4 linked regions of the Homo sapiens genome follow. Changing the gene in region 2 together with the main gene of any one other region gives a genetic interaction. Each region holds a gene or a part of one and is shown on either strand. Other genes may lie near its edges. The genes, in order: SNRPB2, FBXW7, ITGAV and EIF4A3.

What was found.
Region 1: changes in FBXW7 (region 2) and SNRPB2 are lethal when combined (synthetic lethality), as found in Homo sapiens cells (one study listed by BioGRID).
Region 3: changes in FBXW7 (region 2) and ITGAV are lethal when combined (synthetic lethality), as found in Homo sapiens cells (one study listed by BioGRID).
Region 4: changes in FBXW7 (region 2) and EIF4A3 are lethal when combined (synthetic lethality), as found in Homo sapiens cells (2 studies listed by BioGRID, with this or other methods).

The regions. Positions count from the first base shown.
Region 1 is NC_000020.11:16,725,900-16,733,296, reverse strand, and holds the start of SNRPB2 (U2 small nuclear ribonucleoprotein B''), read right to left. Parts: upstream 3,272-7,397; 5' UTR 3,133-3,271; intron 1,630-3,132; 5' UTR 1,595-1,629; coding exon 1,531-1,594; intron 1,134-1,530; coding exon 961-1,133; intron 1-960. UniProt on the Homo sapiens protein: Involved in pre-mRNA splicing as component of the spliceosome. Associated with sn-RNP U2, where it contributes to the binding of stem loop IV of U2 snRNA.
Region 2 is NC_000004.12:152,525,611-152,533,092, forward strand, and holds part of FBXW7 (F-box/WD repeat-containing protein 7), read right to left. Parts: intron 5,241-7,482; exon of another isoform or gene 1-5,240. UniProt on the Homo sapiens protein: Substrate recognition component of a SCF (SKP1-CUL1-F-box protein) E3 ubiquitin-protein ligase complex which mediates the ubiquitination and subsequent proteasomal degradation of target proteins.
Region 3 is NC_000002.12:186,634,878-186,642,359, forward strand, and holds part of ITGAV (integrin alpha-V isoform 1 preproprotein), read left to right. Parts: intron 1-1,204; coding exon 1,205-1,330; intron 1,331-2,187; coding exon 2,188-2,232; intron 2,233-3,399; coding exon 3,400-3,443; intron 3,444-3,531; coding exon 3,532-3,588; intron 3,589-6,037; coding exon 6,038-6,090; intron 6,091-6,508; coding exon 6,509-6,711; intron 6,712-7,482.
Region 4 is NC_000017.11:80,144,029-80,152,476, forward strand, and holds the start of EIF4A3 (eukaryotic initiation factor 4A-III), read right to left. Parts: upstream 3,101-8,448; 5' UTR 2,934-3,100; coding exon 2,765-2,933; intron 217-2,764; coding exon 144-216; intron 1-143. UniProt on the Homo sapiens protein: ATP-dependent RNA helicase. Involved in pre-mRNA splicing as component of the spliceosome. Core component of the splicing-dependent multiprotein exon junction complex (EJC) deposited at splice junctions on mRNAs.

The sequences.
Region 1 (7,397 bases), on a different chromosome or scaffold from region 2:
TAACAGAAACCATATATGGCTTACAAAGCCTAAGGTATTATGTACTTCTTTACAGTTTTTGCTGATGCCTGCATTAGACCAAAGAACAACCAATTTGTTTACCGGAGGTGGTAAAACTAACCACGGGCACAGAGCCAGTTAATAGTACAACCAGAATGAAGACCCAGCTCCTCTAAACCCTGGCCCTTGGCTCTCTGTCCAACACTCCTTCACATCACATTCTAATCGCAGAAAAAAAGCAGTTTGGAATCCACACCTAAGATATGGTGTATTCACTCATACATAGAAACCCCTTGCTTCACACTCTGTGGTCACCCTTATCTGATCCTCTACCATCTCTGACTTACATCAAGGGCCTCCTAATTGAGTTTCCCACTTCCTTTCTGTCCCTCCCACAATGCGACCTTCATCCAGCAGCTAGATGTGAATCTCATTATGTCATTCCTGAGTTTAAAACTCTCCATTCATAACCATTTCATTTCCATTGTTATTCCTAAAACCTATGAGTTTAAACCTATCATTTTTCCTTAGATCACTGTTTCATCTAGACTGTGCAGCTTCTGACACATAGTATTTCACTACGACATATTCTAAAACTTCAGACTGAATTTCCTCTTTGACTCATGACTTTTGTTTCGTAATGTTTTACAAGTTTACAAACAGGTTTCTTTTCAAGTCTTCCAGGATATTATTAATTTCTAACTTTTTGAGATAAGACTATTGCCTAGACTGCCATTATTTTTTAAAATATTCTACATCTCAATGTATTTTGTTTTTGCCCATCTGAACTGTCATAAATTAAACTCTACCACTACTGTTTTTCTATAAAAATACATAAACCCAAACACACATAATTAAAAGCAGAAAGCAATAGCCACAGTTTCAAGCATATTTACAAATCTACTGTCCCATCAATATCATTAATTTCTTGATTAAAGTGAAATAATGGAATTGGCTTACCATTGGTTTACCATAAAATGGAAATCCTTGTAGCTGTCTCAAGGCATTTGTGGATGAGCCCAGTTCCTTAAATATGACAAAGGCCTGCCCCCTCATCTTCATGGTCTTTAAAGCCACAATGTCCACCACATGACCAAACTGAGAAAACAGGGCATATAGGGATCTCTTCAATTCTGTCCAAATTAGAAAAGAAACAAGTTATTGGTAATAAAGTAATGACAAAAGTCTTCATAAAATGATACTGCATTGAGTTGCCCCCCCCACCATTCACTTATTTATACAGTTATATATTTTAATATTTATAAAAACATATACTATTCCCATTGGCTATATGTAATTTTAAAAGTTATATGAAACCATTATATCTATGAGTAGAAACAGACTGTACACACTGTCAGTTCCTACCTATTTTTGTTTTTTAAAAGCCTTCAAATCCCTATAGGAAATGGGATAAACCATTATTTCAGGCACTAAGATGATGAGGTAAGAGGTTTTGAGGCAGTACAATTTTTAAGACAGTAGTAAATAAACACATTTTAGTAGTGAACAAGTATTCTAAAAAGCACTTACCTTCCTTTTTAATTTTGTCATTCATATTGTTGATATAAATTGTATGATTTGGTCTGATATCCATGTTTGTGTTAAATTCTTCAGGAGACAGTAAAAAATCTGTTATAAAAAGGAAGGAGTAAATTATACTGGACTGTGGCATAAGGACACAACACAAGAATTATTAACTTTTCATTTCTCTTTCAATCCCAGTTGTCAGAAAATGTCAGTTTGGCTGTAGCCTTTATTGTATCTCCAGCACCTACTAGCCCTCCTTTTCATACAGAAGAAGAACAGTTTCTCACATTCAAAACTTGGAGCACCAATACCTAGCCAGATTTTAGTAACACCATTTAATTCAACACATTTATTTTTACACTTACGTTTCACTTATGACACGTGACATTTTCTTTCCACCTCCTCAATGAAATAATTTTAAAATGTAGATTTGAAGAAAAATGACCAAAGTAGCAAATGTACATCCAGTAAAAATCATAAGGTTAGACATTAATGAAGTTTGCCAACTACTTAATGGGTGCACTTACAAAGTCCTTCCATACCTATTAATTTGTATACAGCATCACCAAGCTGTCTGGACTCCAAGGTTATCTCTAACCGACTTGAAAGAAAGGAGCTCAATGACAGCAGTGTGGCATGACGATTAAACTCAGATTCCAGTATCAGCCAGATGTGAATTCAAATCCTATTTATGCTTCTTACTAGCTGTTTGCCTGAGGGAAGTTCCTTAACCTCTCAGGTCCTCATCAGTAAAATAAGAATGGTAACAGAACCTACCCAATAGAACTCAGAAGACTAAATGAATTCTAGCACAGTTCTGCATCAGCGGTAAACACTTAAGAGTAGCTATTATTAACAGCTATTACCAGGTAAGGAACTTGCCTAAGGTCACACAGCTAATAAGCATCAGGCCTGGAAATTCAGCCCTTGCTTTCTCCTCTACACTTGTCTTCCTCATATACCACACTATTGCATTTTTTACATGGTTTTTACTTGCAAATTGTGAACTTGGATGATTTCCTTGTGTGCCCCACATATTCCTTTATCTCACAGTATTTACAGAGCATCCACTGTATGTGAACTGCATTGGATGATTGACAAGGGAAGAGCCTACAAGCAGGGGCTGCACTTGTGCAGGTAACAGGTAAAACGTAACGCTTCTCAAAGCCTTGCGACCCCCTAAATCGAAATCTGGAGAAGGGGCAGGGGTCGCAAAGGAGACGACGAAAGGGAAGTGACTGAGGCAGAGGTCAAAGTGAAGGTAGGGGGACAAAGGGGAGGCTCTTGCAGGGTTTCATGCGAGGTTTGATCGTGGGCTGCGTTGTTACAGGGACACCCTGAATTACCCGCCACCACCAAAAGGGAGCCGCTGGAAGACACCTGAAAGCGCAGTGAACTGTCCACGCCTCGCACGAGCAGACTGACATTAACTATCCTTTACTTCGTACGCGCAAGCCTCCCGCCTCTCCAGACACAAGCACCTTCGCCCAAGGCCCCCTAACGAAGTCCAAGGGAGCTGCCACGCGATGCCCGGCCCCAGAGTCAGTCTCCTCACCCCCAAGCCTGCCCCTCCGAGATCCAAACCCGGGCCAAACGCGTACCCACCCCAGCTTCGCGCTTCGTCCGCTCCCAGCTGCAACAGGGGAGAAAAGGGCCGAGGAGCCAGGAAAACCGAAACAGCGAGGTAGAAGGCGCACGAACCCACCTAAGGCCTACGCCGACTACTGTAAGAACCAAAAGCAGGAAACGGAGCCAGGCACCGGAAGCAACGTAGCCACGCTCCTCAATCGAGCGCCGACAAGTCTAGAAGCCGAGCACAGAGCCGATCGATGCTTCCGGGTCTCTGGCAGCCAGGGCTGGCAATCTCTCTGCGCGTGCGTCTGCCCTGCGGGCAGGAGAAGAGTCCGGAAATGGAAATGGGGAAAGAGAAGGGGGTTGTGAGGACCATGCTGCGAGGGAATAGTGAAGGGGAGTGAATCATTTCCCCTACCACGACCTTGCGAAGCTTTACCCGGCGCAACAGTGCCTTCCACCTTTACAAATCCTATGTAATTTTACAGGCGCTGCCCCTCATGCTATGGGGCAGTTAGTCCTGGTTTCGCCCTTCTTTGGGCTCTAGCTACCCCGGTTTAAAATCACCTTTAGGATAGCCAGTTCCTCCTGCCTCCGAGTCTCCTCTGATTCATGGGGCTCTGCAGGAACTGTCCTCCAACACTGTGCTGATGAACTTGAATCTCAGAGGCTACTCAGTTTGAGGGCCCAGGGCAGACAGAACTGGTGTCTGCCCAATTCTCATCTCTCACCAGATAAGGCAACCATGCTGACTAGAACCCAGTCATCTGTAAGATCATCTGCCTCAATTCACTCGAAAAAATAATTCCCTACCACCCTTCCCACTCTTTTCTTCCAACAAAAGGTCTAGATTTTTCTAGGGTATTCTAAGGAGTTAGTATTTATGCCAAGCTGAATGGGAGTTCCCAAAGTGCATGCATTCATTCATCCATCCATTCATCAGATGTCTGTAAAGCATCACCTGGAATATGAAATGGTTGTTAAGAGTCAACTGGAACCTAATCTTGTACCCTCTGCTTAACTAATCTCTCTGACCTTCACTTTTTTCATCTGTAAAATAGGGATCCTAATAGTACCTCCTTCTAGTTGTTGTAAGCATTAAATGAGCTAAAATAAATGTAAAGTGATTGGCACATTGTCAGACACAATAAATGCTCAAAAATGTTATTTCTGAATTCTGGCTATAACTTGGTTCTACTGGTGAGGCAGGTAGCTGTCAAATAAGTTGGTTTTATCAGCTGGGAATTTTTATTTTTTAAAAACACCCAAAGTTGCAACAACTTGAAAATAATATAAGCTTTTTAAGGGTGGGGTTTTTGTCTGCTCTGTTCACTCAAGTACCCTTAGTAATGGGAAAAGTGACTGATAATTAATATGCATTGGATAATTCAATGAATGACATGGAAAACTAGGCAACAGTAAAACAAATATGCTTTGAACATGCACCTGAGTGTAGAGAATGTTAAGGGATCACAGAAAAGCATCGTTTTATTATATAGATCTAAAACTAGAAGAAATGGCTGAGTGTAGTAGCTCACACCTGTAATCCTAGCATTTGGGGAGGCTGAGACAGGAGGACTGGTTGAGTCCAGGAGTTCAAAATCATCCTGGGCAACATAGTGAGATCTCATCTCTAAAATAAATAAACCAATGAGAAGAAATGTCCTATCTCAGTCAAAGAATTATATCTTTAACAAATTAAAAGAGAATATAAACTTAATATAAACAATTTCTAAATAACAAAGGACAAGCTGTTTTGCATATTACTATGAGCATCTCAGCAATTAGTTCTGTTTGATAATAATGAGGATGGCTACACTACTGAGAATAAACTATACTCTGTATTGTATAAGGGGATCTAGCCAAGAGTTGATAACTGTTAAAAGAGAATAAGATGTGATTATACAAAAACACTCCAACCTGGGAAGAAAATACCACAAGAAACACAGAGGCCTGAAGACAGACTGCATGTTGTGTTCTATTAACAATTAAATTACAGCTATTGTACATTACACTGTGAGAAGGAAATCATCCATTGCCAACTCAGCCGCAATGGTCTGCATGCACTTTTCCAGGTTCTTCTAAAAAGAGCCAGTGCATTTTCCTGTCCTTGGGCAGTCACTCTGGGCATTCCAATAACCCGTTAATGATTCTCAGTGGTTTCCTGAACGATTTGAGAAGCCAGTTATTGAGAACAGTACAGGAAGGGAATGATAAGGATCGAATAGCTTTTCTGGTTTTGTGAGAAACCTTGCATAGCCTGGCTATGTAACTATATTAAGAATATTATAGCAGCTAAACTATGGTCACATGTACTGTAAAACATCATCACTTTATAACCAGATCCACTTCTTGAGGGTGAGATCAGGAATCAGATGTCCAAAACTCACATTTTTAAAAACTAGAAGAGCAAATGAGTTTTGTTAGTTCTGCTCAGTCTGTTCTTTCACATTTGGGTTAGGTATCGTGATTTATTTTCCTGTGAAACAGGCTTTTTTTAATCGAGAGAAACAAGGAGGCAGCGTTATAACCACCCTATCCAAGTGTCATGTATTTGCAGATGATAAAACTTGCTTATTTTGGGAGTAGCAGAAAAATTACTACAAACAGTAGGGAATAAAACTGTGCCAAGATGTCTAAATTATAAGGAAGATAACTGAGGTGTCTCTTAGTGACTCTGAATACACATACATTTCCCTACCTTATCTGCACGTGTTTTATGTTTCTCATTAATTGTTTTTGGTATCTTGCTGCAGTAGTTTTAAGAAGGAGCCATGTATAAAGGAAAATGCACCATAAAACTGGTGGATAAATTTTGTCTTATTTATGTTACATAGAGTCACAAAATGTATGGCAATTCGTTTGTATCTTCTTTCTCTCCCCAGGTGGTGATTACATTAAGAAATGTATCTAGAGTGAAATTATTTTCACAACAAGCATTAAACAAATCTAGGCGTTATTGTTGAGCACCAAATCAGGTTTATGTTTTCCAGGGAGGTTGGGATAATGTTGACTGAAACTTCCTAAAAAGCACCACTCTCCCACCCCCAATTCAGGGAGGAAATAATTTTGTGCAATTTTCTTTCATTTTACTTAATTCTTACATTTCATTCTTTGTGGATACATTCTTGCTTTTAGGAATGAAAGAAACCCAAATATGACTATTGCCTCTGATGTTCACTACTGTATTAATGTTAAGAATAGTGTGTCTTTCACATGCAGCAAAATACCCTCTCCCCAGAATGGGTGATGTCTCAGATAGGCTATGAGAATGTGCACATTCCATAAAGTTTGGAAATGGTAGTTTTTCTTTGAGGACCTGATCATTAATCCAAAGAAGTGTGGGGAAAACCTGAACTTTTTTGGTGAACTTTTTGTGAGACATGTAGGTTGTGCTCAGTATTGTATCACCTGCCCTTCCCTAAAGGAGCTAAAGTAGCATCATACAACTGTCGTTCTCTTTGAGACTAGAAAATTAAGATTTCAGTCCCATGAGATGCTCCCATGAAATAAAATATTATGCACACACAACTTTTAAATATAATGGGTTTTGCTTCCCCTATGATTAATCCCTGTAATTTTTTTTGAGTCTTAAGCCTTAGGACAGTTTGAAAACACAAAATTTAAAAAGAACAGCTTTAAAAAAAAAAAAAGACTGTCAGGCCCTGATTGTGTAATTTCAAAAGTGATATATTGTTGATTTCTTGGGCATTCCCCAGATATCTTAATCCAGTGCTGAGAAGCTGCATTTGTAGCAAACTCCCGGATGATGCTGATGCTGCTGGTCCCATACCGCATTTTGGGTAGCAAGAACCTAAGCATTTCTTTTTTAAGAATGGTTGGGGTCGGGCGCGGTGGCTCAGTTTGTAATCTCAGCACTTTGAGAGGCCGAGGCAGGCGGATCACAAGGTTATGAGTTCGAGACCAGCCTGGCCAACACAGTGAAACCCTGTCTCTACTATAAATACAAAATTAGCTGGGCGTGGTGGCAGGCGCCTGTAATCCCAGCTATTCTGGAGGCTGAGGCAGGAGAATCGCTTGAACTCAGGAGGTGGAGGTTGCAGTGAGCCAAGATCATGCCACTGCACTCCAGCCTGGACAACAGAGTCAGATTCTGTCTCAAAAAAAAAAAAAAAGAAGAAAAAAAAGAATGGTTGGTAGGCCAGGCATGGTGGCTCATGCCTGTAGTCCTAGAGCTTTGGGAGGCTGAGGTGGGTGGATCACTTGAGGTCAGGAGCTTGAGACCAGCCTGACCAACATTGTGAAACCCCATCTCTATTAAAAAAATAAAAAATTAA
Region 2 (7,482 bases):
ACTCCCACAAAAGACATGATCTCCTTCTTTTTTATGGCTGCACAGTATCCCATGGTGTGTATGTACCACATTTTCTTTATCCAATCTGTCACTGATGGGCATTTAGATTGATTCCACATCTTTGCTATTGTGATTAGTGCTGTAAGGAACACGCGTGTGCATGTGTCTTTATGGTAGAATGAATTATATTCTTCTGGGTATATACCCATTAGTAATGGGATTGCTGGGTGGAATGGTAGTTCTGCTGTTAGCTCTTTAAGGAATCGCGATACTGATTTCCACAATGGTTGAACTAATTTACACTCCCACCAACAGTATATAAGTGTTCCCTTTTCTCCACAACTTCACTAGCATCTGTTATTTTTTGACTTTTTATAGTAGCCACTCTGAATAGTCTGAGATGGTATCTCATTGTGGTTTTGATTTGCGTTTCTCTAATGAGTAATATTGAGCTTTCTTTGCTTGTTGGCCACATGTAAGTCTTCTTCTGAGAAGTGTCTATTCACGTCCTTTGTCCACTTTTTAATGGGGTCGTTTTTCTCTTGTAAATTTAAGTTCTTATAGACGTTGGACAATAGACCTTTGTCAGATGCATAGTTTGCAAGTATTTTCTTCCAAGAATGTATCTCAGTCTTTTTTTCTAGCTTAGATTTTTTTCATATACCTTAAATATACAGTTCTATTCAATAAACAGCCAATGAAGGAAAGCATACCAAAACTGTTCTCAACATAGAATTTCTTTCCAAATACAAAAACAATCAAGAAGCATTTATTTATTGTATTGGCCAATAAAACACTGATTATGCCCTACTCGAAGAAAAGGTATTTCTGAAAACCAATCTTGTATTTAACAAATATTAAGCACACAAAAAAAGGAATTTTTAAAACCCACATACTAATAATTTCAGGAAAAAACAAAAACTAAAATTAAGTAGTTAAAATAGAATCATGTAAACAAAATTATTTCGATCTTAATTTGAGATGTAAATGACACAGATAAAATTTCCGTTCAACTTCTTAATGATTTTTTAAAGCTTTTTATTTCCAGGGGTTAAAGAGATGGGCAACTAAAAAGGCTGATAACTGAATTAGATCCTGCTATTTCTAAATGGGCAATTTAAACCACAGTCACTATCATAATCACTAACTATTCAAAAACGGATTCTTTTCTGGTCCATGCACTACTGAGATCTTTGAAACTAAATTCAAATTCCAGTTATGTTCAAATCAGTCTTTCTTTTCTATTAAAAAAAAGCCCAACAGTTCTGTCATTTCTTCAGTTTTTAATAAAATGTTAATGAAGTTTTAGATGTTTCTGAAAACACAGAATTACTTCAGTATTATTTGTCAAACTCAAGTGTTGAATTTAAATGTTGGGCTTAATATAAGGCCTGATTTAAATCTTCTATCTACAACACACTTTAAAACAACTTTAACTTAATAAATTAACACTGATGGGTCAAATGCTATATGCCAGGCACTGGATTAAGAGCTTTGCATGCTTTATATTATCTCATTTAATCCTAACAACCACCATGTAAAGGACACGTTTTCCTCCATCAACAGGTGATGCCACCAAAATTAAAAGGATAATAAATAGCTTGTCCAAGGCCATGAAGCCAAGAAATTATTGAATTATGAATTACTGAATGCATATTATGAATGTATTTTATTACGTAAATGAGAAGTAAACTAGCTGCCTGTTGCTGACTCCAGGTAGACCTGTTTTCAACCATTTGGTAATTATAAATTACACTTTTAGTGAAGCAACTCCTTCTCAGACCTAGAGAATGTCATGCAAAGGTATATTACCCCTCATTCACCCCCCTAAAAAGCATGCAATCCTAAAAGGCTGTTAAAAAATACACACACTCTGACCGGGCACTGTGGCCCCAGCCTGTAATCTCAACACTTTGGGAGGCCATTTCAGGAGGACTGCTTGAGTCCTGGAGTTTGAGAACCAGCCTGGGCAATATAGTGAGACCCTGTCTTTACAGAATTTTTTTTTTAAATTTGCAGGGTGTGGCAGTACACACCTATAGTCCCAGCTACTCAGCTACTCAGGAGGCTAAGGTGGGAAGATCACTTGAGCCCAGGGGGTCACGGCTGCAGTGAGCAAGGATCACACCACTGCCCTCCAGCCTGGTGACAACAAGCAACCCTGTCTCTAAAAAAAATAATTTTATACAAACCACACACACTCTCATAAGCATTGACTAGATCAGGAATTTTTGTTAAAAATTTAAAAATTATATACACACACACACACACACACACACACACACACACACATATATATACACACACACATACATTCTTCCAAAAACAAACCAACAATTTGCCTTGAGACTTCACATTTGGAACTGATAATAAACATTGACGGGTTCGTTTAAGATGCTGTGAGATGAAAACGCCAAAGCCAGAGGATGTGATCCTCTCAGAGAAAAGGCTAAATAATATTAAAAATATTTTGTAGTCTTTTAATATTTCCTAAATTCCAGAGCAGTCATGCAGAAATGAACATCTAACACAATACACTAGGTACAGGTACACAGACAGACAGAAACACACAGAGAGAGAGAGGAAAAAAACATGCTATCTCTTTCTTACAGCCAGATTTCCAGTAGCTATCTTCCAGATAGAAAGAAAGGGCAAAGGTGACACAGCATAGCAACAGAAACTGCACAGTATCTGACTGATCCACTAGCTGTCCCTTAGGTCTGATGGGGGAAGAGCAGAAGATACTCAAGCAATAAGGTCTCTTGTGCATTTCTGTTTGTTTCTGATTTTCAACTACGTGCATGGCAGGATAATACAAGACGAACACTGGCTCTCATATTTTCTTCTTATAAGCCTTCTGCTTTACAGAAATCAAGTGTTAACTCAAAAATTGTAAAAGAACACCTCAGAAAAATTTAGTTAAATGTTAAGTTTGTCATTCCAATATCCAGATCAAGTGCTCAAACTGCAGATGCTCCCTCAAATGTTTCACAATTCTTAAGTTGTAATAGGAAGAAATTTTTAAAGATACTTGCATGTAAAAATATAATTACTAGAAGATATATATCCCATAGTGTTCAGAAAATGTCACGTACTTTGAGAAAATACATTCCATTTAAACATACTGTGAAAGGTATCATGAGGAAGTACCAAGGAGGTATCATCAGAAAGCAGCAAAAACATAAAAGTACATTAAGACATAAAACAGGATATTAAGTGATATTAAAAATATTTTGTAAGGTCTTTTAATATTGCCTAAATTCCAGAGCAGTCATGCAGAAATGAACATCTAGCACAATACGCTAGGTATATCTACACATACATACTTTGTGTGTGTGTGTGTGTGTGTACATTTTCCCCCATTATACTTAATGGGGGAAAGTCTAAGAACAGGACAAATTAACAGCAAGAATTCATTATTTAACAGCAACTTTACTCATCTTTTTGTAATGACAATTCAGTTACACTAAAAACATACACATTTTTCCCTGGTCCACTCAAAGTATCAACAAACTGGAATAATTTCTGTTTGGAGTATTTGCAGATAGAAGATGCACACCTTGTGTCTTTTAAATTGCCACTCATCCTTAGGCTTGGGACAATGATAAAATTACTTGAAAAGACAAAAATTAAAAGATTTTTTAAAATAATAAGGAAATAATCCTTTCCAAATAAATAGGGAAAGCAACTTTATAGTGACCTTCTAAAAGATGTACTAACATTGTCAGATTATATACTCTTTTTTTAAAAGGAAGAAGAAAAATTAAAAAGTAAATTGTTAGTTCAATTTAAGTAACAATATGTAGAAATACTACATATAAACTAAAAGCAGGTTTCAAACTAACTAAAAAGTGATCATTATTGCAAGAGTAATCTCCACCCCTGCCATAAACAAGGGAATCCTAAAATAAATAGGATTTATGAAACTAAATATACCATCATCCAATGTTGGTATCTGCTGACATATGAAACAAATATTTTAATATTAACTGTAATGTAAAATTGCACAAAGTGAATTACACTTTCTGAACAACACATGTGAGAAAGATTCACTCTTAAAAATATAGCAATGCTGGCCAGGTGTGGTGGCTCACGCCTGCAATCCCAGCACTGAGGGAGGTCGAGGTAGATGGATTACCTGAGCTCAGGAGTTAAGAGACCAGCCTGGGCAACATGATGCATGGCCTTTGGGGTTACCTGGTGGGTGCTAAAACACACACACATATACCCTCGAGGCTCTCTAATTCCCTATCAATCCAAAAGTTGTTACCCATCTCTATCAAAAATACAAAAAAATTAGTCGGGCATGGTGGCGCATGCCTGTGATCCCAGCCACTCGAGAGGCTGAGGTAGGAGGATGACTTGAGCCCAGGAGGTGGAGGTTGCAGTGAGCTGAGATCACACCACAGCACTCCAGCCTGGGTGACAGAATGAGACCCCGTCACAAAAAAAAAAAAAATACACACACACACACACACACACACACACACACGTGTATATATATACGTGTACATATATATATATACGTATATATATGTATATACATCAAAGCTTTTTAAAGTACACATTTAAATGATTTAAGTGATTTGTTAATATACACTAGTACTTGAAATTAACAAAACAAAAATTGCGATGTGTAATTCTACACACTGAATTAGCCACTGCAAGAGATTAAGACTTTAATAGATAGCAGTATCAAACTTTAATGCTCTTATAATTTGACTCATATTATTCAAACCAACCATAGACACTTCTAATTTTACACACGAAGTAAATGCTTTACATTTATTTTCAGAAGGTTTCAAAAGTATGCCCACAAGCTTCTTTACAGATACTTTTGGCCATGATACAAAGCCAGTATATCACTAAATGCCAACTGTGGTTATCTTTAGATAAGAAATGCAGGTAGTCCCTACTTTTTAGCTGCATCCCTTTAAAGATGGTATCACCCCGACCCTCAATCCATAGTTTTCATCACCATGAAGGCAAAAGTATTTTGTACAGTAGAGTATGTGCTTTATGCAGAATCATTTTAAATGAACTCAGAGAAAAACATCTCATCTAGAAAACAAAGACCACCAAAAATAGCCAGTCCTGGCTTTGTAGTGTAATAAAGCTCATACTGTTTGTTGGTGGATTTGGCAGTTGTCTATACCAGGAGTCCAAAAACTTCGGCCTATGGGCCAATTGGAGCACGGCAACATTCATTCACTTCCTTGTTGTCTACAGCTGCTTTCACACTATAAGAACAGAATTGAAAGTTGTGACAGATCATGTGGCCTGTAAAACCTAAAATATTTACTAACTGGCCCTTTACAAAAATAGTTTGCCAACTCTTTCTCTACACAATGAGATGTCAGAAGCACCAGAAGACTTCTCCAAGAACCATCTCCAAAGTACAATGAAATGAGCCTATGCATGGCCTTTGGGGTCATCTGGTGGGTGCTAAAACACACACACACACACAAACATATACCCTCAAGGCTCTCTAATTCCCTATCAATCCAAAAGTTGCCAAGGCAAAGTACATGAAGTTACCACTCTTCCCACTGTCCTCACTAGTAAATAACATTAACTATAAGTGGCTGCCTTCTAAAATTCATCTGAACATGGCTTCGACTGCACAAAAAATGTTGTGGAAAGTGGAGGATGACAAGAGAAGGCCTCCATATGGCATATAATCCAATCCCTATATTTTCACCCTAGAATCACCTTAGACCTATCTCCTTGTTGAAACATCTCTTCCCCAGAGTTTCTGCCATTTGAATAATCACTGTTAAGAAGTCAGAGAAGCTACTAGGAAGGTGCAGAATTCCAACTAAGGAACACAAAAAAGTGTGAATATATATTTCCTTCCTCACAATCCTTAATCCTGTTAAAGTCAATACTAAATGCAAGCCGCAAAAATGTCTACATTTTTTTAAATGCCAAGTTGCTTTTTTTTAATAAAAAGTTTAAAAGGAAAAAAAAAAAAAAAGCATGTTCAGCACTACTGTGCCTACACAGGGATATCCCCTCCATTGTATGGGACACAAAGACACACACCAACTGTGAACAAGGGAAGCAGCCTTCTCTGTCAGCTATTTTTGGCCTCACTTCGTCATATCAAGACCAAACGTAGGATAATAATGCACAGTGAACTTTAAAACATGAATTTGAGGAAACAAATCTGTCCTTCTATTTATAAATTCCTTAACAATGAAATTATTATTAAGTATACTCTTCTGAACTTAATCTCAAGGGACCTATATACCCTATTTAAAAAAAAAAAAAAATTTTAGCTTGTTTCAAAAATACAGAATAATATACCCTGGGACTAAACTGGTGGCCATGTTTAAAGCCTGCTCATTCCTTTTTAACTTCAACTCTTATCCACTTCTAAAACATCTATTTTAGGTAGTGTCTCATTCATTCAGATTTTCCCCCTAACTAAAAATACCCACTTTTCAGCTCTTCACTTTCCATCAGTACTCTGGGAAACCTAAATACTTTGAAAATAATTCCAACTTTACATTTTCAGTATATTACCTGCTAAACTATTTTGCTGTTTTGAAACTGCACCAGTATCCAATTGTTGCCCTAAAATTTCACATCCAAAGCAAAGTCTACTGTCCCATTTCTAAACTCTTTTTTGTAAGAAGCCACTTTCAACACACTAAGCATCTTCTTTTTCACTCCTCCTTCTGTATAGCCCTGGATAGCCACGATATAATAAAAATGTTGGTTCCCTAGAAAAACAAAATCCTAATCCAGGCATACAGCTTTTACCTAAAATGTAATTTCTCCCCAGTCATCTGAAATTACTCTCAGGAACACTCTTCTCAGTTGCTTCTTTGAACTGTAATCATGTGTCTACACAAACACAACTGACCCTAACACTACTCAACAACCTCTATCTGTATTCCCTTCAAACCAGCTTCGTAATTTTATCTGTCCCTTATGCCTTTCAATTCCAAAAGTCTTAAATATTGTGTCTCCACTTGCTCTTTTCTTCCTAAAAGAAACCTTCCCAGATTTGGCTTCAATACTTCAATTAGTTCTATATGTACACGTCCAAAAGCAACATTTCCCTAGTGAAAAATGTAAAAATATATTCACATCTATAAGTTGACAATATCTAACATCCAGTGCGGTCTTAGATAAATATTGGTCTATCCCCCCTCTCCTATAGCTTTGTGCAATTTGTGTTTGATTGTCTCCACCACCTACAAGTAAAAGCATCTCAAAGGCAGGGACCCCAAAAACTTTGTCATTTCTACCCAAACGTGCAATAAAACATTACCATAATTTTTTGGCAGGACGCGGTGTCTCAACGCCTGTAATCCCAGCACTTTGGGAGGCCGAGGTGGGCAGATCATTTGAGGTCAGGAGTTCTAGACCAGCCTGACCCACATGGTGAAACCCCATCTCTACTAAAAATACAAAAAAAATTAGCCAGGCGTGGTAGCACATGCCTGTAGTCCCAGCTATTTGGGAGGCTGA
Region 3 (7,482 bases), on a different chromosome or scaffold from region 2:
TGATGAGCATGCCTGGGAACCAAAACTGTCAAGGAAGCTAAATTTTGTGATTCTCAGTTAGGACTACTTGTTAACTCTGTCTTTTTAAGAGATACAGCTGTGAAAATGTATGACCTTTTTTTTTAATGCCATGGGTATTGCATAAATAGGAATAATAATAAATAGGAATGTGTAATAATTAGGACACAGTAATAAATTAGGACAGAGAGGTACTATTAATATTATATTTATTAGAATTTTATTACAAGTTGTCTGTAATATATAGCTAGCAGACTCAGTGAATTGGCAAATAGTATTTTGTTTTAATAAGATTAAAATCAGCAGATGTCACCCTGGATAAGTACGTTAGAATGAATTTTTTCACAGATCTCAGAATTGTCGTTGTTAGAATGGAGAAAAGAATAATGTTTTATTCAGAAGAAATAATGAATTTTCCTCTGTTCTTCAATTCAGGAAATGTTTATTGAATTTCATATGTTCTTGGTACCGCTGAAGCCCAGATGATAAAGTAGTGACCTGGACAGAGAAAGTGCTTCTGTGCTGTAGATCCAGTCTCTGTGACTGAACAGATGGGAACAGGACTGAAAATGTTAGCTGTTACACATTTCTTTCTAAAACAGCAGAAATGATAAGAGATTACTGTGTCCATATTGTGGAGACAACACTTGATAAACCAGCTATCCTTTCTTGGCATGGAGGGCAGGCTGATTTTTGTGTAGTCATCTAGATTTCTTGTCTGCTTAATAACAAGGTTGTGAACAAAGGTGAACTCATCCATTCAGGTTGTTTCCTAAAGATGTTTAAATTACTAGTTAAAAAATATCAATTGAACCAATTATTCTGATTATAAAAGTAACAGTATTGTTTCAGTAAATTTTTCATGTTTTAATGGATTAGTTGGGTGATAGCCTTTGATTTTATTATTCCGTGTATTTAACATTGCTTTCTAGTGATTTAAGACAAGTCCTGTTTTCTTAAATTTTTATTAGCAGAGACTACTTTTAAGTACTGGCTTAAACAGAAATAATTTTAAGTTAAGAATATCCATTTTCAAATTGAGTATGATCAAGGAGAGTTATGTACGGCTAATAATTAGAAGTACTAATATCTAATATTGTTTTCCTTCATGCAGGTACCATACATTATCTGTATCATAAAGTTTCCATTTGAAGGTTATTTATTTTATATATACACCCTTTTTTAGGTCAGCTTATTTCGGATCAAGTGGCAGAAATCGTATCTAAATACGACCCCAATGTTTACAGCATCAAGTATAATAACCAATTAGCAACTCGGACTGCACAAGCTATTTTTGATGACAGCTATTTGGGTAGGTAAAACCAAAATTTACTCATTTTTGGAACTGTGGTACATATATCTTATATCTGAGTATGGTCTTTTAAGTAGAAAAATATTTTATGTGAAATAGATTAGGATTTTTTGAAACATACAGAATATACAATTTCAAATTGTTAATGAGTACTTTGGTTATGTTACGTTTCAGTAATTGAAATTGAAGACAGTGATTATTTGTGCAGTGATAATAATAATAGCTAGCCTTTAAGATATGCTTACTGTGTTCTGGGCATTGTTCAAGGTGACTTGGTTTGTATTCACTCATTTAATCCTCACAAGTCAAGCATACTGTATTATTCTCATTTTGTAGGTGAAAACACTGAGGCACTGAGACGCAAAATAACTTGCCCAAAGTCACTCGCTTGTAACTTGCTGTTCAGAGATTCAAATGGAGACAGTCTAACTCCTGAAGTTTTCTTCATGATGTTAAATAAAAGTTTTGGTCTTTAGGACTTATTAACATGTGTTCTCTCTTTCAATTTCTTTATGATATATTAAAACAAGTCATATATGACAGAAATAGTACTTGCTGATTGAGAGAATTTATTTGTTCTTTATGATGAGTTGTAAATTTGGTGTTTTTAACAGACTCCTTTGTAAAGTTAATAAGACAATTGTAGTTTTGTAATAAAAATAGACTATTTGAGTATTTAACTCAGTTTCATTTAAAATTCATATGTCATATATATATGAATCTGTTATGACTAGGGGACAAAATATTGCATAAGTAAAGGAGTTTCTTGAAAATATTTTCAAGGAATGCTTACTCAGCAAGCCTGCTGAAGATAACGTCCTTGTCCTGATGGTTCTCCCCTTTGGTTTCCTGTTTAGGTTATTCTGTGGCTGTCGGAGATTTCAATGGTGATGGCATAGATGGTATGAAGTACTTGAACTATATCTAATCTTTAAAAAAATTAGATTAAGTATTTGAAACATGTGGCATTGAAAATTTTAAGCAGTTTGAGTGGCTGGGTGCTGTGGCTGCAGCCTGTAATCTCAGCACTTTGGGAGGCTGAGGCGGGTGGATCCCTTGAGCCCTGGAGTTCAAGAACAGTCTGGACAACATGGCAAAACCCTGCCTCTAGAAAAAACACAAAAATTAGCCGGGCGCGGTGATGCACACCAGTGTCTAGCTTCTCAGGAGGCTGAGGTGGGAGGATCTCCAGAGCCCAGGGAGGTTGAGGCTGCTGTGAGTTGTGATTGCGCCACTGCACTCCCGCCCGGGCGACAGAGCCGAGACCCTGTCTCAAAAAAAAAAAAAAAAAAGGAAAAGAAAATAAAATTTTAAGCAATTTTAAACCATTGTTATGGAATATAACAGAAGAAATGAGGAAGATGTTAGCACACTGGTGAGAGTCCAGGCTAGGTCTGTGCTGAACTTCCTCTAGTGGCTGCTGAAATTGAGACAGCTACACTTGGCTTCAGTGCCTTTCCTTTCTGCTTCTTTTTAGCCCCCAACACTGTTAGTGATTTCCTTAGCATTTTCCTCCTTGTCTTCAGCAAATTCATTCCTCTGGGAGGAAGAATTAGTGTCTTCTTTCTTTAGGCATCCTTTGTTACCTTCTGGGCCATCTCTGTACGGTTATTACCCCATCCTCTCATTGTCCATCCATCTTCCTTCAGAGCTCCGTTTAGGAATCACAGTCTTTACCTGATTTTGATCACATTTTTGTGCCACAGCCACTTCTACCCCACTTCAGTTTGCTCTGTATTATTTTTCATTACTGTACTACTAAACTAAATGTAGTTTTTCTTCATTCTTAGGTTACTTTATCTTGTCTATTCTTGTTTAACAATATTACAAATGACTTGAGGGCTTATTTGCATATGTTTGAGAGCCCTCCAGAATTTGTATTTTGTAAATTTTGATTTTATAGTTTAAAAATGCTGGGCTATTTATTACGGAGTACCAATTTTTCTAAATTGATTGTTTGTTTTGAACTGAAGTAGTAAAACTTAAAGCTTGCTGACATAGTCACTTCTGGTCTGCAACTTCCAGTGTTGTCCTAAAAAATGAATAATTTGTTTGTTTGTTTGTTTCAGACTTTGTTTCAGGAGTTCCAAGAGCAGCAAGGACTTTGGGAATGGTAGGACAGTTAAAAGGTATTTTTTAAAAAATCTCTAAGTTATCTTCTATTTTACCAGATTTCACATACTTCTATTTTTCCTTCACAGGTTTATATTTATGATGGGAAGAACATGTCCTCCTTATACAATTTTACTGGCGAGCAGGTATGCTTCCAAAATATGATCGTCCTCTCCCACTATAAAAGCAGTATGTACTCATTGGAGAAAATTTGCGAAATAAAACTGTAAAAATGAACTATAATCTCATCAAATAGATAATTCTTCCAACTCTTACCATTTTGGTCAAACTATTATCATTTCTCTTTTGAGCGTGTGTGTGTGTGTGTGTGTGTGTGTGTGTGTGTGTGTGTAGTATATAAACAAAAATTGGTTTACTCTGTATTTTTCATTTTGTCTTGCCTTTTTCACTCAATATTTTATCATCAGAGTTTCTAATTTCTTAAAACTTTCCTTGGCAGTATCAGAATGGTTTAATGATTCCATAATATTCAATATTCTAGATATAAGATGGGCTTTAAATATTTCATCTTTGTTTTAACCAAAGTAATTTGGATATTTTGGCTTGTTTTTGTTTCCTTTTTTTTTTTTTTTTAGGAAATGCAAAATCACATGCATACAAAACCACAAAGACTTCCTTTTTCTTTACTGAAAAGAAAAAAGAGAAAAGAATTCTTTAAATTCTTTTTTAAGGATGATCAATGCCTTATAATTTTATTAGATGCAACAGAAAGCATGGCACAGATATGTGTATTATAGATATTATAAGCGAACTTCATTTTTACTACATGAAATAAGATATTTCTCAGCTAAAAAAATGCTAGTACTTTTTAAGTATTAGACATTTCTCTGCGAGTACAGGCATTTTATAATATTCTCTGTTGTATGTCTCAAAGAATTATACCATAAGTTGGTAATGATGAATAAACATTTAAACAGTAGGTAGAGAAAAATCTTTCTCAAAGTTTGCAGATCTGGGATTCAAGCCTTTTTGTTCAGTTGAGATTGTTGGGCTTTGGGATAGGATTGACAGGCTGACTGACTAGACTCATGGTCCCCAGAAACCTCCTCCCATTTGTATGGCAGTCAAGATTGATGCACAACCTGGAGGGCCCTGCAGTTGACAGGCAGTTAGGGTTGCTGCAGGGGTGGTCCCTTTGTTCCGTTTTGACTTCTCCAGCTCAAGCAGCTTCTCCTGTCTGGTGACCATGTATGAGTCTGGATCCTACTGCATGCACTCAATGATACTTGCTTTATTCCTCCTTCCACTATTGGGAAGTGGGGGTGGCTAGAGAGGAGTGGGAAGCGTGGCTTTTAGATGAGGACAAACCTGGGTTTTCCATGCTCAATCTGTTATTGCATTGGATAAGGTATTTGCTGCTGAAAATCTGTTTCTTATTTATAAAAATAGGGATGCTGACAACTTCCTCATGGGACAGTTGTGAGAATCAAAAGAAAACATTCGAATCATAGTGCCCGGGACAAAGTGTGTCTCAGTAAATGCCATCCTTTCTTTACACTTCCAAGCCAAACACCATAGGTGACTAAGGCCCATGAATATTATTCTGTTACATAGTCGGCACATCAACCTTGTACCCCAAACACAGTATATTTTATTTCACAAGCTCTGAACTTGTTATTTAATACAGAACACACCTTTCATTTTCCCAATTACACTGTATCAACCCAAAATAGATAATGCAGGAATCTCCCTTATCATTCTCCCTTGATATCTGAGCCAATCAAATTTGAGAAGCATTGCTAACTTTCCTTTTTTGGTTTGTTGACTCATTTTTCACCTTACTTTATATTTAATCTGTCATCTCTTTTAGTTTTGTTTTGCACTTTCAGCTCTCTTTAGAGCTTTCCTTTTTCACATTTATTTACAGCTAAGCTGCTCATCCTATGCAAGCCTGTGGTCTCCTGTGGTAGGGAAGAGGACATTTCTGCTCCCTGTGCATTATAAGCTCATAATAAACCCAAACACATTTGTACTGTGTGTGATTCAAAAGCAAAATCATGTGGCAAGTAATCTATAGAGATATGACACAAAAATGAGCTCCTTTCCATATCTTTCCAAACAGTAATTTTTAAACAGTAGTAGTAGTTACACATAGGGGAGCCAATTATTATCTGTTATTAATAATTATTATCTATTATCCTCATGACATAGGCATCCATATAAAACTTGTTGGGTTCAATCACAACATTTGTCTGTGACTATATATCTTTGTTAGTGTGCTTGTGTCTGGTATGTTTTGGGAAGTGGAGAGAAAGGGAGATAGTAGGGTAGGCCTGAGAAGGAGAATTGATAGTCCTTAGACTTAAATGTCATATATCAACAACACTGGAAGGATATACATGTAATATATTGTGTATATACATGTAATATATTGTGTCCATGATCTAGGAAAACAACAAGCCTCATTACCTGATTGTCATTGTGTTGGTAGAATAAACAAAAGACAAGACATTTAGATTGAAGCACTATATGCAGAGAAAAAAAATAACCCTATTTGGTACATATATTACAAATGTTAATTGTCTAAACTAATTGGATGAAATATAAACATTTCATTTTCATCTTTTTATCCAGATGGCTGCATATTTCGGATTTTCTGTAGCTGCCACTGACATTAATGGAGATGAGTAAGTTTAAAAAAAAATGTTTCCAGAAAGTTATCTTCTCATGTTTACGAATACTTTACTCAAACTAAACATTTTTTTCTTCTGTTTTTGTATTCCTTTTCTGCTAATCTTTCTGTTTAAGGAAACAATTTGAAGCAACCTTAATCATGAATTCTAGAAAACCTCATATGTTTGTTCTGTTTTTTTTCAGTAGCTTTTATAACATGAACAAATAAAGTAATTTTATGAATTATTCATAGTTTCTTAAAAGAATTAAAGGAAGTTTCAAATTTGAAATGAGTGCTCTGGTAATCATTTTGTGTTTCACTGTGGGTGTGAGAGATGCAGAAAGAGGAAAAGTGAGTTGTAGTAAGAAAGAAAATGCCTACTAAGACATGAAATTTGTTCTTGCTTTGGTGAGAAGTTTCTGTTCTTCTAGTTATGCAGATGTGTTTATTGGAGCACCTCTCTTCATGGATCGTGGCTCTGATGGCAAACTCCAAGAGGTGGGGCAGGTCTCAGTGTCTCTACAGAGAGCTTCAGGAGACTTCCAGACGACAAAGCTGAATGGATTTGAGGTCTTTGCACGGTTTGGCAGTGCCATAGCTCCTTTGGGAGATCTGGACCAGGATGGTTTCAATGGTAAGATCAAAGTTTAGCAGCTACAGGTCCCTGATTATCTGTGTCCACCTGGAAAAGTTCTGTAAGTCCATCTGTAGAAGTCTACACGAGCAAATCTCCTTCCTGGAAAGGTGGATTGTGTGTAAGTGAGTAACACACCAAATTTAAAGACAGTTTGCTATTTTTCTTTAAAAATCAGAGCAAAGATTTCAATAATGGACTCTCATGAGTTATTATTCACTTGGCCTCAAATTAGAAGGTCAGAATGATTACTTTCTGAAAGGAACCTTCATTACCCTGGTGCCTACTGCTAGCTGGTATGTGTTTCTGCATCCTGCTTAGCAGCAGTGCCCTCTTCTGTTCATTTGGCTACAAGTGTTAAAAAAAAATGCTTCCAGGCACATTGTCAAGGCAATGCTGACTAATGCATACCTCAAAGGTATGATTTGCCATTAATATTTTTAAAGCCATAACTTTGTTGTAGCTGTCCAAAATGTTCTAAGGGATGTTATATCTCCCTTTATGGTGGCATATTAAAAGTATAAGCCTATTCGTTTATAATAGTACCATTTTAATAGTTGTCGATATCTTTAAAAAGCAAAGTTAGCTTTTACTTTAGAACTCTTTTCAGAAACCTGAAATATAGGTTACAAATTACCAAGATTTTTTTTTTAATCTGTTAAAAACCTTTCTAGAGATCACAGAATGGATAGTTGAACTAGTTTGTGTAATCAACAGTATAGTAAGCCTATGCCCCCTTAAAACCTAAAGGAAAGGTATACATTAAGAAGA
Region 4 (8,448 bases), on a different chromosome or scaffold from region 2:
TATTAAACCCTGTGGCTAAAGTCAGGGAAAGTGTTGGAACTGAGCGTGTACAAGCTGAGGGAAACAGTCATCCCAGAGCATCTAACTGCACTGCGCTGCCCAAATTTACATCCAGCCCTGCGCCGCACCCCAGGACAACTTACTGTGCGATGACATCTCTCCCTTTGATGATCTGCTTGATTGCTCGTTGCTGGATTGCTGATGGTTTTTCAAAACCTGCAAATAAAAACAAAAAATTAGCCCTCACCACAATGACAGCATAGAAACCCTGTACTGTGAGCTCCTCAGGGGCAGACATGGTTTGTTTTTTGAACCTGTCCTCCAGCCTAACCCAGTGTTCAACATAGCAAGCTCTCAAAACCCAGGGGCTCAATGAATTGGGCTGAGTGATTTCTACACTAACGTGGGATATTATTTGTAAAGACCAATCTCTATTTTTAAAAAACCACCAAATTGTAGAATATAGACAACAGTTTTGTTTAAAAAAAAAAAAAAATCTGGGTGTGCAGCATCTGGAAGTGTAAGTGCCAAAATGTTCCTGGCAGTTACTGCAGTAGAGGGGTGGAAAGAAACTTACTTTTTACTCTAATTACTCCCTTAGGTTTGACTGGATTACAAACAACCTATACTACTTTTTAAATTAAAAAAAAAAACAACAAAAAAACAGGAAAGTCACTCTAGCCATTGTTCTCTCCTACTAGCTAGCATTAAGTCTGTGTGTTGCTGACAGGTCTACAACTCTGTTTAACCTGCGTGGGTCACGCTGCAGGGTGTCCTATGTTGTTCTGTCTGGATGCAGCTCACTAACTACAACACCATCACACCATCTCTCTTGCAAAGCAACTACTACACCAAAGGGTGAGGCTATTTTGAAGAAGAACCACGTGTTTTTCAAGTAAATAAAATTTTATGTACAAAAACTCTATTTCAATTATTTTTTGGTAGTCTCTTAAATGTAGCTCTGCTCAGTTCTGGGGCATAGCGAAAAATAAGAAACAAAAGAAAATGTAGCACAATTTCCCATCTTAACACAAATGCAAATATAGCAGATGATTTAAACTCTTCATGAAGAGCAAGCACATAGATGGGAAACTAACAACAGTGTCTTAGGGCAGGGACTGCCTGAGTGCCAGGAAACCAGGTGGGGCTGTCAGCCTCACTGTGAGGCTGCCTGAGATGCTTTTTCACCACGCATCCTCAGCAACTTCGCTTCACTTTGTCCAAACTGTTGTGGCATCAAGAACTACAGGATACGGCCAGGTGGGGTGGCTCACACCTGTAATGCCATCACTTTGGGAGGCTGAGGCTGGTGGATCACTGAGGTCAGGAGTTCAAGACCAGCCTGGGCAACATGGCAAAATCCCCTCCCTACTAAAAATACAAAAATTAGTAGGACGTGGTGGCCCACACCTATAATCCCAGCTACTCGGGAGGCTGAGGCAAAGGAATCGCTTGAGCCCCAGAAGTGGAAGTTGCAATAAGCTGAGATCATGCCACTACACTCCAGCCTTGGTGACAAGAGCAGGACTGTCAGAAGGAAAAGGAAGAAAGAAAAGGAAGAGAACTACAGGATAAAAAATGTCCCTGTCCCAAGCATTAAACACAGGCCATTTATCCCAGATGCTGGTCATTCCCATCTATGTGCCCAACCCAACCTCTTCTCCAGGCTCTCCCTCAACTTCCTCACATCTTTCAAACATACCAAGAGACAGCTCCTGATTCTGACTCTCTGGAGTGCTGCCTACCTAGCCAAATGTTTGCAGCATCAACCACCGGTTACTCAAAACACTCCAACTCTCCTCCTTCTGTCACTCACGTTCAATCCATCAGCCAATGCTGTCAGCTCCCTGGTACTCCATCTCCAAGGCAGCACAATCCTCTCTTCCCTGAACTGCAGCAAAAGCTCCCAACTCTCTTGTTTCCTCTCCTGCCTTGCCTCGCCTCACCTCAAATCTACAGACACCCAGAAGAATCTTTAAAACTGTAAATGTGATCGTGTCACATAGCTACTTAAAACCTTCCACTGGCTTCCCACTAGATTTCTAAATGAAATTCAAATTATTCGTCACCCTACACGTCTTTGCTAGATCTGCCCCGACTAGCTCTCCAAAATCCCACCACAGGGGACTTCTTTCAGTTCCTGGAATGCAGCTGGCTAAGGGCTGCAAGGCCCTGGCACCAGCTGTTCCTTCTGCCCCAACTGCTCTTCCCTCTTCTCATAACAGTCTCCTTCATCCAGAACTCTGCTCAAATGGCACCCCCTCCTGCGAACCCCCTTACCTCTCTGCTTTACTAATTCTCTCCTCCTTCCCAGTCCCACTCTATTCAATTACCCCGCTTCAGGTTCTTCAGGTTGCCTGGGCAACCTGACAGTATGCTTTCCCCCCAAACGAAATTCAAAACCCGTAAAGGCGCAAACCCTTCCGGTTTACCGCCAAAACCCCAGTACCTAGAAAAGCTAATAGGTAGAAATCAGTTATCTGCTGAATGAAGGACGCTGAGGTGCCTCGAAGCGGCTGCAGCCCCCGACAGACCCAGCGCCGAGCTCTGCACGGGGGACACACACCGAAAGCGCCGACACAGCCAGGCGTGAGGGCGAGGACGGGGGTGGGGGTGGGGGTCGGACGTCACTGGCCCCCGAGCCTCGACCCTGACCACGACCTCCGGAGCGCAGGGCCGGCCCGGGAGTCACCAGTCTGGCCCTCAGCCCCCGGCTCGCCCCCGACTCGCCCCCGGCTGGCCCCCGCGGCCCGCGCCCGCTCACCGTAAGCGTAGATGCCCCGCAGCAGGTCCTCCCGCAGGCCCATGGTGTCGAACGTGGGGGTCACATCCACCTCCTCGCTGGTCTCGAATTCCACTTTAGTCATGTCTTCCTCTTTGAGCAGCCGCTTTCGCGCCGAGCCCGAGGTCGCCATCGTGGCCGTGGTCGCCATGATTCAGAGTCCGCGGAAGAGCACAGCGCGCGCCGCTGCCGACCTCGCTGCCGCTGCCGACCTCGCTGTGCCGCTGCCGACCTCGCTGCCGCTGCCGACCTCGCTGTGCCGCTGCCGACCTCGCTGTGCCGCTGCCGACCTCGCTGTGCCGCTGCCGACCTCGCTGTGCCGCTGCCGAGAACAGACGCCTTAAGTATGCGAAAGCGAGAGACGTGCGTGCGTACGTGCGTACGTGCGTACGCGCGACGCGGCCACGCCTCTGGGGGACGGGGCACTCTTCGTCACGTGAAAGGGAACTGGGCGTTTGCCGCAGGGAAAAGTAAGGTGTTTCTGCTCTCGCGCCATATGCAGTTCCCGCGGGATCTCGTTGAGGGCGGGGCACCCAGTTCCTTACGAAAGGGATGGAGGGGGTGGTACTTCTAAAGTTGGCGGTGTTTCGTACCGGCCGCGGGATTTCGCGGACTGGGGCGCTGAGGTTCTTTGAGCGGCGTGTGGACCTGAATTCCCTGGAAACAGGCTGGGGCCGCGAGGGGCCTCCGCTCCGGGCGGGGTCCCCAGATAGCCCCGCCTCGAATAAAAATGACGAGCACGGGTCCTCTCTCGGGCCCGCAGTGGGTGGACTGCGTCGCAGACCCGTAGTGGAGGCGCCCAGCTCGCCGGGGAGATTCGAGTGGAAACCCTCACGGCCGCCGGTGGTGGGCCCCGGCGCGGCGCTGGGCTCCGGCGGGTCTGCGCTGGGGAGGGCCAGGGCCCCTGAAGCCGGCGTCCCTCTTAGGGGACGCGCCTGGGTGTGTCTTCACCGTTTGCCTGGTGAGTTGGAGACAGGGTCTCGCTCCGTCGCCCAGGCTGGAGTGCAGTGGTAGGATCAGGGTTCATTGTAGCCTCCGCCTCAGCCTCTGGAGTAGCTGGGACCTCAGGCGCGCGCCACCACGCCCGGCTAATTTTTTAAATTTTTTTGTAGAGACGGGGTTGGGGGAGGCGGGGGTTAGGGTTGTCCTGGCTGGTCTTGAACTGCGGGGCCTCAGGTGATCCGCCTGCCTTGGCCTCCCAAAGTGCTGGGATTACAGGCATGAGCCACTGTGCCCGGCAAGCAGCTGTTATAAATAAAATACATGCTGAGCCTGCAATTTGCTCTTAATGAAGGCCACTTGTCAGTAGACGGTGCTGCTAATGCGTGTCCTGCAGCAAAGATAACCCAGACGGGATCATTTTTTAATTGCCCAGCAGAACTTTAACCAGTTGTGCATCTTAACCTGCTTTTTGTTTGTTCGTTTGTTTGTTTTGAGACAGTCTGGCCCTGTCGCCCAGGCTGGAGTGCCATGGCGCGATCTCGGTTCACTGCAGCCTCCACCTCCCGAGCACAGGCGATCCTCCCGCCTCAGCCTCCAGAGCACCTGGGACCACAGGTGTCCACGCGCAGCCACTAACCGCTTTCTTATCTGACACTTTAAGTGCTTCTTCGTACCCAGCTCCTCTAACGCCTTTTGAAGCAGCTCCATCATCTTTGAAGGGCAGTTCATGCTGTTGAGAATCATGTTTTTAACTTTGGGAAAATTGTATTTCCACGAGCGCCAGCTCTGTCCTTTTTTTTTTTTTTTTTTTTTTTTTTTTTTGACGGAGTCTTGCTCGGTTCGCCCAGGCTGGAGTGCAGTGTCGCGATCTCAGCTCACTGCAAGTTCTGTCGCCCAGGTTCACGCCATTCTCCTGCCTCAGCCTCCCAAATAGCTGGGACTACAGACACGCGCCACCACGCCCAGCTAATTTTCTGTATTTTTAGTATAGACCGGGTTTCACCATGTTGGCCAGGATGGTCTTGATCTCTTGACCTCATGATCCGCCCACCTCGGCTTCCCAAAGTGCTAGGATTACAGGCGTGAGCCACCGCGCCCCGCTATTTTGTGTGTGTGTGTGTGTGTGTGTGTGTGTGTGTGTGACAGAGTCTCGCTCTGTTCCCCAGGCTGGAGTGCAGTGGCGCAATCTTGGCTCACTGCAACCTCTGCCTCCCGGTTCAAGCGACTCCCCTTCCTCACCCTCCTGAGTAGCTAGGATTACAGGCATGCACCACCACGCCCGGCTAATTTTTGTATTTTTAGTAGAGATGGGGTTTCCCCGTGTTGGTCAGGCTGGTCTTGAACTCCTGACCTCATGATCTGCCCGCTTCAGCCTCCTAAAATGCTGGGATTACAGGCATGAGCCCGGTCCTGTCCTTTCTTATGGTCACAAATCTGGCTTGCATCGCTGGGCACATCTTTAATCCACAGCTTCTTTCTAGGAGTGCTTGAAAAGCTCTCCTTTTATGAAGGTTAATTTTAGTTAAAACCAGAGCATCCTGGCCAGGCCTGGTGGCTCACGCCTGTAATCCCAGCACTTTGGGAGGCCGAGGCAGACGGATCATGAGTGTAGGAGTTCGAGAACAGCCTGGCCAAAATGGTGAAACCCCATCTCTACTAAAAAAAAAATACAAAAATTAGCTGGCCGTGGTGACGGGTGTCTGTAGTCCCAGCTACTCTGGAGGCTGAGGCAGGAGAATCTCCTGAACCCCGGAGGTGGAGGTTGCAGTGAACCGAGATTGCGCCACTGCACTCCAGCCTGGGCGACAGAGACTCCATCTCAAAAATAAACAGAAAACCAGAGCATCCTTTTATCAAGAAGTCGGTGGATTGCAGTATTTCAAGGGTGAACAAGTAAATGCAGCCTTCTCCAAGAGTGAATCTCATTCTGGCACCAGAATTTATCCATGACAGATAATTGACCTTCTGATAAACATTCCTTGTAAGGATGCTGGTGTTACCCAAAATATTAAATATTTATAAAGCTGAATAAAATGTAAGTTCTGATACCTTCCTCACTCTACAAAGGATCATTTCGTGCCTCACACTGTTTGCCAGGCCGTGCTGTAGCGCTTTGTCGTAAAATACACACAGATTTCAATGACTTAACGTAGGAGAAGAATGTAAAATACCTTGTTGACTAAAGAAAAACAGTTAAGCTTTTAAAGAATTAAAGTTAGTTTTATTCAGAAGCCTTACTGAGGACCGTACATCCTGGCCCCAGCCCAGGAGCTCAAGCGATCCTCCTACCTCAGCCTCTCAAAGTGCTGGAATCACAGGTGTGAGCTACCAGGCCTCTCACCTTGTTCAAAGTTAAAATCTAATCCACAAACTGCTTAGATTTGTTTTCCTTCATATTTTTATGACTAGATGATCTAACATTTTACACCATTTTTCTGGAAATGTTGTTTATGCCAGGTGTCTGAACACACATCTTAAAGGGCTCTAACTTTTCTGGGGAGCAGTAGCTTTTTAGCCCAGAGTCTATGACAATGTGACAATGATGAGAGCTGCTGAGGTTTGCTGCAGTCTCTGGGTGAACGATGCTTTCTAGGGAAACAATGGGGCATAAAACAGACATGGGCTCTCCTGCCTTGAGATTAATCGCGTGAGATGGACCCCTCCCCAACACACAAACATTGTGGGACATGAGGTGCTGGAGACGGGGTTGCTCACCCAGAGCTTAATGGGTCTGTCCACCTTTGTGACCAAGAGGCCTCTTTTCTTAGAGGCTGAGGGGCCCTGGGATGATGAGGGTAAATCCACTTTTTAGAGCAGGAATCTCCAAACCCCAGGCCACGGACCAGTATCAGCACCTGTCTGTGGCCTGTTAGGAACCAGGCGGTGCAGCAGGAGGCAAGCAAGGGAGCTAAACTGAGCTCTGCCTGCTGTCAGCAGCAGCACTGGACTCAGAGGAGTGTGAACCCTGTTGTGAACTGCACATGCGAGGGATCTAGGTTGTGCACTCCTCATGAGAATCTAATGCCTGATGATGGGAGGTGGAATAGTTTCATCCCGAAACCACTACCCCATCCATCTCTGGAAGAATTTTTTTCCACCACCTGTGGAAAAGTTGTTGACGTGGCTAGACTTTGTGTCTTCACCCACATCTCATCTTGAATTGTAATCCCATAATCCCTATAATCCCCACGTGTCGAGGGAGAAGCCAGGTGGAGTAATTGAATCACGGGGATGAGTCCCCCATGCTGTTGTCTTGATAGTTGTCTCGAGATCTGATGGTTTTATAAGGGGCTCTTCCCCCTTTGCTTGGCACTTTTCCCTTCCTGCCATCTTGTGAAGAAGGTGCCTTGCTTCCCCTTCACCTCCTGCCATGATTGTAAGTTTCCTGAGGCCTCCCAAGCCATGCTGAACTGTCAATTAAACCTCTTTCCTTTATAAATAACCCAGTCTCGGACAGTTCTTTATAGCAGTATGAAAATGGAATAATACATTTGTCTTCCACAAAACCCATCCCTGTTGCCAAAAAGGCTTTAGAAAACGCAGTGTGGGTAGGTGGTGAATAGATGGGAGGAGACTCATGTTTTTGTCATGTAGGAGAGCAGCAAGAGCTCCTCTCAGGAGAAGAGGTTTTTGCTGTGAAATATGGTGCGTGCTTTTCCATGGCCTATGTAGTGCTCAGCAGATGCCCTAGCATCAATAGGATCCCAAACCCCTTGTTCTGTTTATTACTGGTAGGCAGTTAGGATCGTGTCAGCCATGTCTTGAGAACATGCCTTGTGAGTCATGCACCAGATTTGTTAAAGTGTCGGCTCTGTGTAGCTCTGTTGTGCTATGCATAACATCTACTTAAAAAATGAGAGCTGACAGCCTCGCTTAGCTTTCTATCCACAAGTCCCCTGCTTAAAATTCTGGATAAATGTTTCCGTTCCTATGGGAAACCTCCATTATCTCCATAAGTAGAGAATGCAGATAGGTATCTTTTTTCTTTTACTGATGGAGACACTAAGGCCCAGTGTGATAAGTTCAAGCGCCCTACAGGGAAAGGCACAAGCAGGCCAGGCTCTAGAGTTCCCTAAACAGTAGCTATAGTGCCTGCCCTTTGTCCCTGGCCCCCAAGGTGTCTAGGAAAAGAGGCTCCCGGTCACTGAGGTAGACAGACCCCTATGCCTGGTCTCAGCATCCTCGCTGTCACCGGCATCTCACTTCCCACATGGTTTCCACGTTGGGGAGGGAGACTACTCACCCCATTAAATGCGGCTGCTAGGGTCATGTCTGTTTCGCCCCCACTGTTTCCCTAATGCTCAGTAGGTGTTCAATAAATAGTTGTTGGCTTACTCAATGTGTGGACCTCTGGGGCAAGAGAGAGGGAGGGACACAACGCAGTCCCAGCTGGCCAGGAGCGCTGTGAGCTCAGGAGGTTGCTGTGGGGGAGATGGTGAGGTAGGAATTTGGCAGGACTTGTTTCACAAGATAGAGGTCACAAAGACCCGCTGATAAAACAGGATGTGGTAAAGAAGCCTCCAAACTCCACCAAAAGCAGGATGGTGATGAAAGCAGCCTCCGCCTGTCCTCACTGCTCCTTATATGCTAATTATAACGCATCAGCTGCCAAAAGACACTCCCACCAGCCATGACAGTCTCCAAATGCTATGGCCACCCCTGAAAGTTACCCTATGTGGTCTGAAACAGGGAGGAACCCTCAGTTCCGGGAATTGCCCACCCCT